3 separate regions of the Homo sapiens genome follow, and all the other regions are linked to region 2. Evidence: fine-mapped expression QTL. A gene starts in region 2. Each other region holds a variant in brackets. All regions are shown on one strand. Distances are from middle to middle.

Evidence for each region. PIP is the estimated chance that this variant, and not a neighbour inherited with it, causes the effect. A credible set is the group of variants that fine-mapping cannot tell apart.
Region 1: its variant is the best candidate, but not a certain one, in a credible set for the expression of ZNF502 in monocytes (Quach 2016, PIP 0.54).
Region 3: its variant is the best candidate, but not a certain one, in a credible set for the expression of ZNF502 in whole blood (INTERVAL, PIP 0.78).

The regions. Positions count from the first base shown.
Region 1 is chr3:44,778,825-44,781,589 of GRCh38, forward strand. KIF15 (kinesin family member 15) reads left to right here. Exons shown (of 35, transcript NM_020242.3): 5 at 2,061-2,098. Among named protein-coding and RNA genes, the nearest start is that of KIF15, 18 kb to the left of the region's middle. The variant CT/C (reference allele first, on the strand shown) is at 1,243.
Region 2 is chr3:44,711,137-44,713,901 of GRCh38, forward strand. It overlaps ZNF502 (zinc finger protein 502), which reads left to right and starts at 1,524. Exons shown (of 3, transcript NM_001134442.3): 1 at 1,524-1,604.
Region 3 is chr3:44,819,958-44,822,722 of GRCh38, forward strand. All of the region lies in intron 20 of KIF15 (kinesin family member 15), which reads left to right. Among named protein-coding and RNA genes, the nearest start is that of MIR564, 41 kb to the right of the region's middle. The variant G/A (reference allele first, on the strand shown) is at 1,411.

The DNA of each region.
Region 1 (2,765 bases), 68 kb after region 2:
CAAAAAAAATAGCTGGATGTGGTAGTGGTCGCCTGTAGTCCCAGCTACTTGGGAGGCTGAGGCAGGAATCACTTGAACCCAGGAGGCAGAGGTTGCAGTGAGCCGAGATTGCACCACTGCACTCCAGCCTGGGTGACAGGGCGAGACTCCGCCTCAAAAAAAAAAAAAAAAAAAAAACCAAAACAAAAAAGAAAGATTTGTCTGTTTTCCACATTTATTCAATTCTTTATATGTTATGGATATGCATTTATTTTATTCTTTAGGTTATAATCCAGTACTAAAAATTATTTACCTTGTTGTTCTTGTTGTTCCAGCTTTGCCCAATGGGCCCTCCTTGAGGTTGGTTTTTGTGTCCCTTTGCTATAGCTCATCCTTTTGTTTTTTGAGCCCCTTCTTACTTTATGATGCTACAAGATGCTCTGGGCTCATCTTGTGTTTTCCCTGACCTACGCCTAGAATCAGCCATTTCACCAATGAACCCTAATTCCTTTTATTGGAGCATGGTATTTAGAAACCAAGATCTGGGCGCTAGGTGTGTTTGGTTTGTTGCTATTGGAATGCCATTGCTTCTAGGCCTTCTCAGCAGACAGAGCTAGGTAATACATGGCAGGGTGGGTATACTGTCTGGTTTACTGAGGACAATACCAATTGTCAAGTAATTATTAGTAGTGTCCTCTTCACTCTCAAGTGCCTGTTTGGACAATAATCTATAGGATTACCCTATTTGTGGCTGGGCACGGTGGCTCACACCTGTAATCCCAGCACTTTGGGGGGCCGAGGTGCGTGGATCACGAGGTCAGGAGTTCAAGACCAGCCTGGCCAAGATGGTGAAACCCCATCTCTACTAAAAATACAAAAAATTAGCCGGGCGTGGTGGCAGATGCCTGTAGTCCCAGCTACTCAGGAGGCTGAGGAAGGAGAATCATTTGAACCCGGAGGGTGGAGGTTGCAGTGAGCCGAGATCGTGCCACTGCACTCCAGCCTGGGTGACAGAGTGAAAAAAAAAAAAAAAAAAAGGATTACCCTATTTGTAGAGGACTCAATAATATCCATTTCTCATTCTGAGTTACTAAAGAATTTTTTTCCCTCTTTTCTTCCAGAAGAAGGGGGTAAAAAACTATAGCATACTGTTTTCTAGTTTTGGGGGGCATTTAATGAAAAAGTAAATCCAAAATTTTCTGTTTTTGCTGTGAATCTAAGCTAAAGTCTTTTGATATCTTGATTAACATCTTTAAAATACAA[CT/C]TTTTTTTTTTTTTTTTTTTTTAAAAGAGATGGAGTCTTGTTATGTTGCCCAGTCCTGGAGTGCAGTGGCTATCCACAGCTGTGATTCTAGTGCACCACAGCCTGGAACTCCTGGGCTCAAGCCATCTTTCTACTTCAGCCTCCTCAGTAGCTGGAACTGCCTGGCTTCAACGTTTTTACTTTTAGTTTTTTGTTACTCTTGTTTCTGTTAAGTGGGATAACAGGAGAGATGACATTGCACAAAAACCTATAGCATAAGAATTTTTTTATTGCTTTATATTTAAATGAAGAGATTTTAGTATCTTTTAAAGACAAAGAATTTAGGAAAGGAAATGCTGTATTACTTGGCATAGCAAAAATTGGAAACAAAAGTTCATTTGATTCTGGTTAAATAAATTATGGTGCTGCAAGATGCTATATGATCCCAAAACCATGGAATACTGTGTAGCTATTAAAAATAATGAGGCAGACCTCTATTGCTGACCTAGGAAGATATCTGAGGTAAAATTAAGGGAAAAATAGGTTGCAAAGCAGTATGAAGAGCATCATCCCAATTTTGGTAAATAAAAATTAAATGAAAACTCTGATGGCTATGTTTGTGTAATATAGAAGCATTTGCCAATTAACAGCAGTTAGCTCTTTGTAGGGAGATTGGAGAGAAAGGAGGCAGATCATTCACTTTTTATCTAATAGAATTTAAAAATAGAAAGAAAATAAGCTAACTTTTTGTGGAGAAAACTTATACACTAGTATTATAATAGGAGGAGTAGTCTTTTAATTTTATGTGTAAAAATAATATGTAAAACATTTTTTACAGTGGACAGACTGGCTCAGGGAAGACATTTACTATGATGGGTAAGTAAAGATTAACTTTTGTTGGCTTAATCTACTCTTTCTGTGATAACAGTAACCTACAACATTTTGGGGAAAGGCATAATTTCTATATATGATGTTGATCTCTTGAAATTAGGGAAATTCCCTAGGCTTCTGCCAAGTTGTGAGTTCTTTGCTAGCAAAGTCCATGTGTTAATCATGTTTGCAGCTATGTTTCCAGCTCAATGCCTGGCACAGAGTGGTGCTGAATAAACAGTTTTTCAGTAGGATTTAATGAATTCGTATATGTTTATACACCTGTATAACCACTAACCAGATCAAGATTCCTGGTCAGTAACTACCAAACCCTGTCCCCTGGAATGCCAATTACTCTGATTTCTGTCATCATTAATATTGCTTGTTTTTGATCCTCTACAAATAATATTTTGTTGTGTATCTTTTGTTTCTGATGTCTTTTAGTGTTAAGTTTCTGCGATTCACTCATGTTGTTGCATGTAGTAGTAGTTTATTTCCATTACTGTATAATATATTATCGTATGAATATACTACACATTTTCCAGTCTACTGTTGATAGACATTTGGATTATTTCAACTTTTCAACCATACGAATAATGTTGCTGTGAACATCTTTCTTGTGTCTTTTCAAATAATTTATGTTGGATATGTATCCAGGAGAATTGCTGGATCA
Region 2 (2,765 bases):
CCCCTTCCCTCTCCTCTCAACCCGTCCCCGACCCCGCCGCCCAGAATGGAAAATACCTTCATATAATCTCTTTTGGTGGGGGTCAGGTAAATATAATTTAGAAGGAGTTTCTATTTCTCACAGGGAAGCAACATTCATCTCTGGAATGTACACTTTAGGTAATCTGGGGGAAGAAAGATAATTTTCCAGCAGTTTTAGCTCTCAAACAAGCAGTATACATCTATGTGGAGTAACTATTTCCTGTAACTTGTTGGAAGTTGATGGTGACCTAGTCATTCATCAAATACTGATTGAATGCCTAGTATGTCAGCCATGCTCTAGGTGCTAGGGATATAGTATGAATGAAACAGAGAAGGCCCCTGCCTTCATACAGCTTACATTCTACCAAGGGAGATAACAATTGGATAGAGTGAGCCAAAGAAACGGGAATATGCCAGCTACGTGGTACATCCTTTCAGATGTGCAGAGAGCTTGCTTTCTGGATTTAATCTATGGTATCCTCATTTTTCAGTTTATCAAAAATGCCAATAATCTAAATTTCACCTGTTTCTGATTAACGAATTCAACAAGTATTTATTGAATGCCTTCTCTACCAATCATTGTGCTAAACATTGAGATATAATGATAAATAATAGCTCCATATAGCTGATTAGAGTTGTATAAAAATGAACTGATTGGGTCTTTCACAGTTGTCCTTGGGTGGGATGCTACTTGTGTGTATCTTCCTAACAATACCTACGAAAGAAATACAAGTGTATGCATTTAGGGGGGCACTGAATAGAAGGCTAGCTAGAGCTAGAATAACTAATAGTGATATGTGAGTGTAAAGACCCATAAGGGCAACAGTCTAGGTGGTCAAGTGAGAATTGGCATTGGGATTTGAAGAACCAGGATAAATTGGATAGCTGAGGTTAGGGAGAGCAGGTAGAAGGAAGGGAGAGTATTCCAAAGGGAAAATCCTGGGAAAAAGATCTAGAGTCAGGAAGAGGCAAGGGATTTCAGGGGGCCAATGGGAATTCAGTAACTTTAGAGCAGAATGTATATGATAGCCAAATAAGAGATGTTGATATTGAGGTCAGTTTGTGTGGGCCTAGATTGGGAGTTTGTCCTTTATTCTAACATAACAGGGGATCACTCAAGGTTCTTAATAGAGACTATTTTAAGCAGGTAGAATATACTAGTTTCTTGTTGAGATGGCCCATTCCGGCTCCTACCCAGCATCCTTTCCATCCCTAACGTCTCCCTCTACAGTTTTCCTGAGGGTTGAGGTAGCCACTGTGTTTCAGGCCAAGATAGTTGTTAATGGGATATCAGGAACGCGACTGGGCTTGACGGGAAGCAAGGCTGGAGTTACAGGCTGGGCTTGGCGGGAAACAAAGCTGGAGTTACAGGCTGGGTTTGGAGGGAATGCCTTCTTCTAGGGTCCCATAGAGATGTTCCTCCCGCTTCCTAGAGAATCAGAGAATGGATGCGCGAGCTCGCTGCTGACGCACTACCGGCCGCGCCACCATTCTTCCGGTTTCAGAAGTTAAGGCTGGTGTCCTGGCCCCAGTCCACCTCTGGGAGCGCCTGCGCCGCTCCGCGGAGAGTCCGTGGATCTCACAGTGAGCGAGTTGGGACCCAGGGAGGGGAAAAGAGAGGACCCCGGCGAGCCATTGCTGGGGCGGCGGGCTGGAGGGTTATCTGGGAAGTCAGCCCCGGCCTCGGTCCTCTCCACGTTGCTGCCTACGCGTGCTGCCCGGACGTAGGGCACTCCTAGCGGCTCGGCCCGCCCAGCCTGCAGCCTCAGCACTGCAGACTCCAAGGCCCAGCACAGTGCCCGGCACAGAGGAGATGCCTAGGAAAATGGCGGAGTGAATGAATGAATGAGTGAATGAGTGATGGATAGATGATCAAGACAGACCTAGGACCCATGTCAGGAAACGAGGTCCTGGGGATCAGATACCAGTTTCTTCCCCCGGCTGATCCTGTAGCTCCGAAACTTGTTTAGAGCCTGTTTTTATAGGAGACGGCAAATAGCGTAAAGTGCACTCGTTGGGAGTCTTGAGACCTGAGTTACAATTCTGGAGGGTACAGAAATCTCTAAAGTACTGTCTAGAAGTCTGTTCCTTGCTTCTTCACAAAGCTCAGTTGACAGCTTGTATGTGATAGCATGTATGCAAACCTTAATGCCTCCCAATGAAGGATTACTATCCATTATATGCCAAACATTACCCCGAATTTAGTGGCTAGGCTACAAAAGAGTGACATCGGAGACTGCCACATGTAAAGATGCTTCCAGTCTTGTTTAGGACGATAAGGGCATAAGCAGATTTTGGTGGTAATATTTTAAACTACATTTATTTAGCACTTACTGTATACCAGGCACTATTTGAAGCATTTGTGCTAATTGATTTAATCTTCACAACAGCGTATTGCGTGTACAGTTTTGTTTTTTGGTTTTTGGTTTGTTTTTTTTTTTGAGACGGGATTTCACTCTTGTTGCCCAGGCTGGAGTGCAACGGGGTGATCTGGGCTCACCACAACCTCTGCCTCCCGGGTTCAAGCGATTCTCCTGCCTCAGCCTCCCGAGTAGCTGGGATTACAGGCATGCGCCACCACACCTGGCTAATTTTGTATTTTTAGTAGAAACGGGGTTTCACAGTGTTGGTCAGGCTGGTCGCGAACTCCCAACCTCAAGTGATCCACCCGCCTTGGCCTCCCAAAGTTCTGGGATTATAGGCGTGAAACACCGCGCCAGGCCTATGTGTAGTTTTTAAGTGAGG
Region 3 (2,765 bases), 110 kb after region 2:
GTTAGCTCTTTTTGTTGAATTGATCCCTTTATCATTATGTAATGGCCTTCTTTGTCTCTTTTGATCTTTGTTGGTTTAAAGTCTGTTTTATCAGAGACTAGGATTGCAATCGCTGGTTTTTTTTGCTTTCCATTTGCTTGGTAGATCTTCCTCCATCCCTTTATTTTGAACCTATGTGTGTCTCTGCACGTAAGATGGGTCTCCTGAATACAGCACACCAATGGGTCTTGACTATCCAATTTGCCAGTTGGTGTCTTTTAATTGGGGCATTTAGCCCATTTACATTTAAGGTTAATATTGTTATGTGTGAATTTGATCCTGTCATTATGATGTTAGCTGGTTATTTTGCTCGTTAGTTGATGCAGTTTCTTTTTTTTTTCCTTTTTTTTTTTTAAACTTTTATTTATTTTTTATTGATCATTCTTGGGTGTTTCTCACAGAGGGGGATTTGGCAGGGTCACAGGACAATAGTGGAGGGAAGGTCAGCAGATAAACAAGTGAACAAAGGTCTCTGGTTTTCCTAGGCGGAGGACCCTGCGGCCTTCCGCAGTGTTTGTGTCCCTGGGTACTTGAGATTAGGGAGTGGTGATGACTCTTAACGAGCATGCTGCCTTCAAGCATCTGTTTAACAAAGCACATCTTGCACCGCCCTTAATCCATTTAACCCTGAGTGGACACAGCACATGTTTCAGAGAGCACAGGGTTGGGGGTAAGGTCACAGATCAACAAGATCCCAAGGCAGAAGAATTTTTCTTAGTACAGAACAAAATGAAAAGTCTCCCATGTCTACCTCCTACTACACAAACACGGCAACCATCCGATTTCTCACTCTTTTCCCCACCTCTCCCCACTTTCTACTCCACAAAACCGCCATTGTCATCATGGCCCGTTCTCAATGAGCTGCCGGGCACACCTCCCAGACGGGGTGGTGGCCGGGCAGAGGGGCTCCTCACCTCCCAGTAGGGGCGGCCGGGCAGAGGCGCCCCTCACCTCCCGGACGGGGTGGCTGGCCGGGCAGGGGGCTGACCCCCCCACCTCCCTCCCGGACGGGGCGGCTGGCCGGGCGGGGGGGCTGACCCCCCCACCTCCCTCCCGGATGGGGCGGCAGGCCGGGTGGCGGGCTGACCCCCCCCACCTCCCTCCCGGACCGGGCGGCTGGCCGGGCGGGGGGCTGACCCCCCCACCTCCCTCCCGGACGGGGCAGCTGGCCGGGCAGAGGGGCTCCTCACTTCCCAGTAGGGGCGGCTGGGCAGAGGCGCCCCTCACCTCCCGGACGGGGCGGCTGGCCGGGCGGAGGGCTGACCCCCCCACCTCCCTCCTGGACGGGGCGGCTGGCCTGGCGGTGGGTGACCCCCACCTCCTTCCTGGACGGGGTGGCTGCGGGGCGGTGACGCTCCTCACTTCTCAGAC[G/A]GGGCGGCTTCCGGGCGGAGGGGCTCCTCACTTCTCAGACGGGGCGGTCGGGCAGAGACGCTCCTCTCCTCCCAGACGGGGTTGCGGCCGGGTAGAGGCACTCCTCACATCCCAGACGGGGCGGCGGGGCAGAGGCGCTCCCCACATCTCAGACGATGAGTGGCCGGGCAGAGACGCTCCTCACTTCCTAGATGGGATGGCGGCCGGGAAGAGGCGCTCCTCACTTCCTAGATGGGATGGCGGCTGGGAAGAGGCGCTCCTCACTTTCCAGACTGGGCAGCCAGGCAGAGGGGCTCCTCACGTCCCAGATGATGGGCGGCCAGGCAGAGACGCTCCTCACTTCCCAGACAGGGTGGCGGCTGGGCAGAGGCTGCAGTCTCGGCACTTTGGGAGGCCAAGGCAGGCGGCTGGGAGGTGGAGGTTGTAGCGAGCTGAGATCACGCCACTGCACTCCAGCCTGGGCAACATTGAGCATTGAGTGAACCAGACTCCGTCTGCAATCCCGGCACCTCGGGAGGCCGAGGCTGGCGGATCACTCGCGGTTAGGAGCTGGAGACCAGCCCGGCCAACACAGCGAAACCCCGTCTCCACCAAAAAAATACGAAAACCAGTCAGGCGTGGCGGTGCGTGCCTGCAATTGCAGGCACTCGGCAAGCTGAGGCAGGAGAATCAGGCAGGGAGGTTGCAGTGAGCTGAGATGTCAGCAGTACCGATGCAGTTTCTTCCTAGCGTCGATGGTCTTTACAATTTGGCATGTTTTTGCAGTGGCTGGTACTGGTTGTTCCTTTCCATTTTTAGTGCTTTCTTTAGGAGCTCTTGTAAGTCAGGCCTGATGGTGACAAAATCTCTCAGCATTTGCTTGTCTGTAAAGGATTTTATTTCTCCTTCACTTATGAATCTTAGTTTGGCTGGATATGAAATTCTGGGTTGAAAATTCTTTATTTAAGAATGTTGAATATTGCCCCCCACTCTCTTCTGGCTTGTAGAGTTTCTGCTGAGAGATCCGCTGTTAGTCTGATGGGCTTCCCTTTGTGGGTAACCCGACCTTTCACTCTGGCTGCCCTTAACATTTTTTCCTTCATTTCAACCTTGGTGAATCTGACAATTATGTGTCTTGGGGTTGCTCTTCTCGAGGAGTATATTTGTGGTATTCTCTGTTTTTCCTGAATTTGAATGTTGGCCTGCCTTGCTAGGTTGGGGAAGTTCTCCTGGATAATATCCTGAAGAGTGTTTTCCAACTTGGTTCCATTATCCCCATCACTTTCAGGTACACCAATCAAATGTAGATTTGGTCTTTTCACATAGTCCCATGTTTCTTGGAGGCTTTGTTCATTTCTTTTTACTCTTTTTTCTCT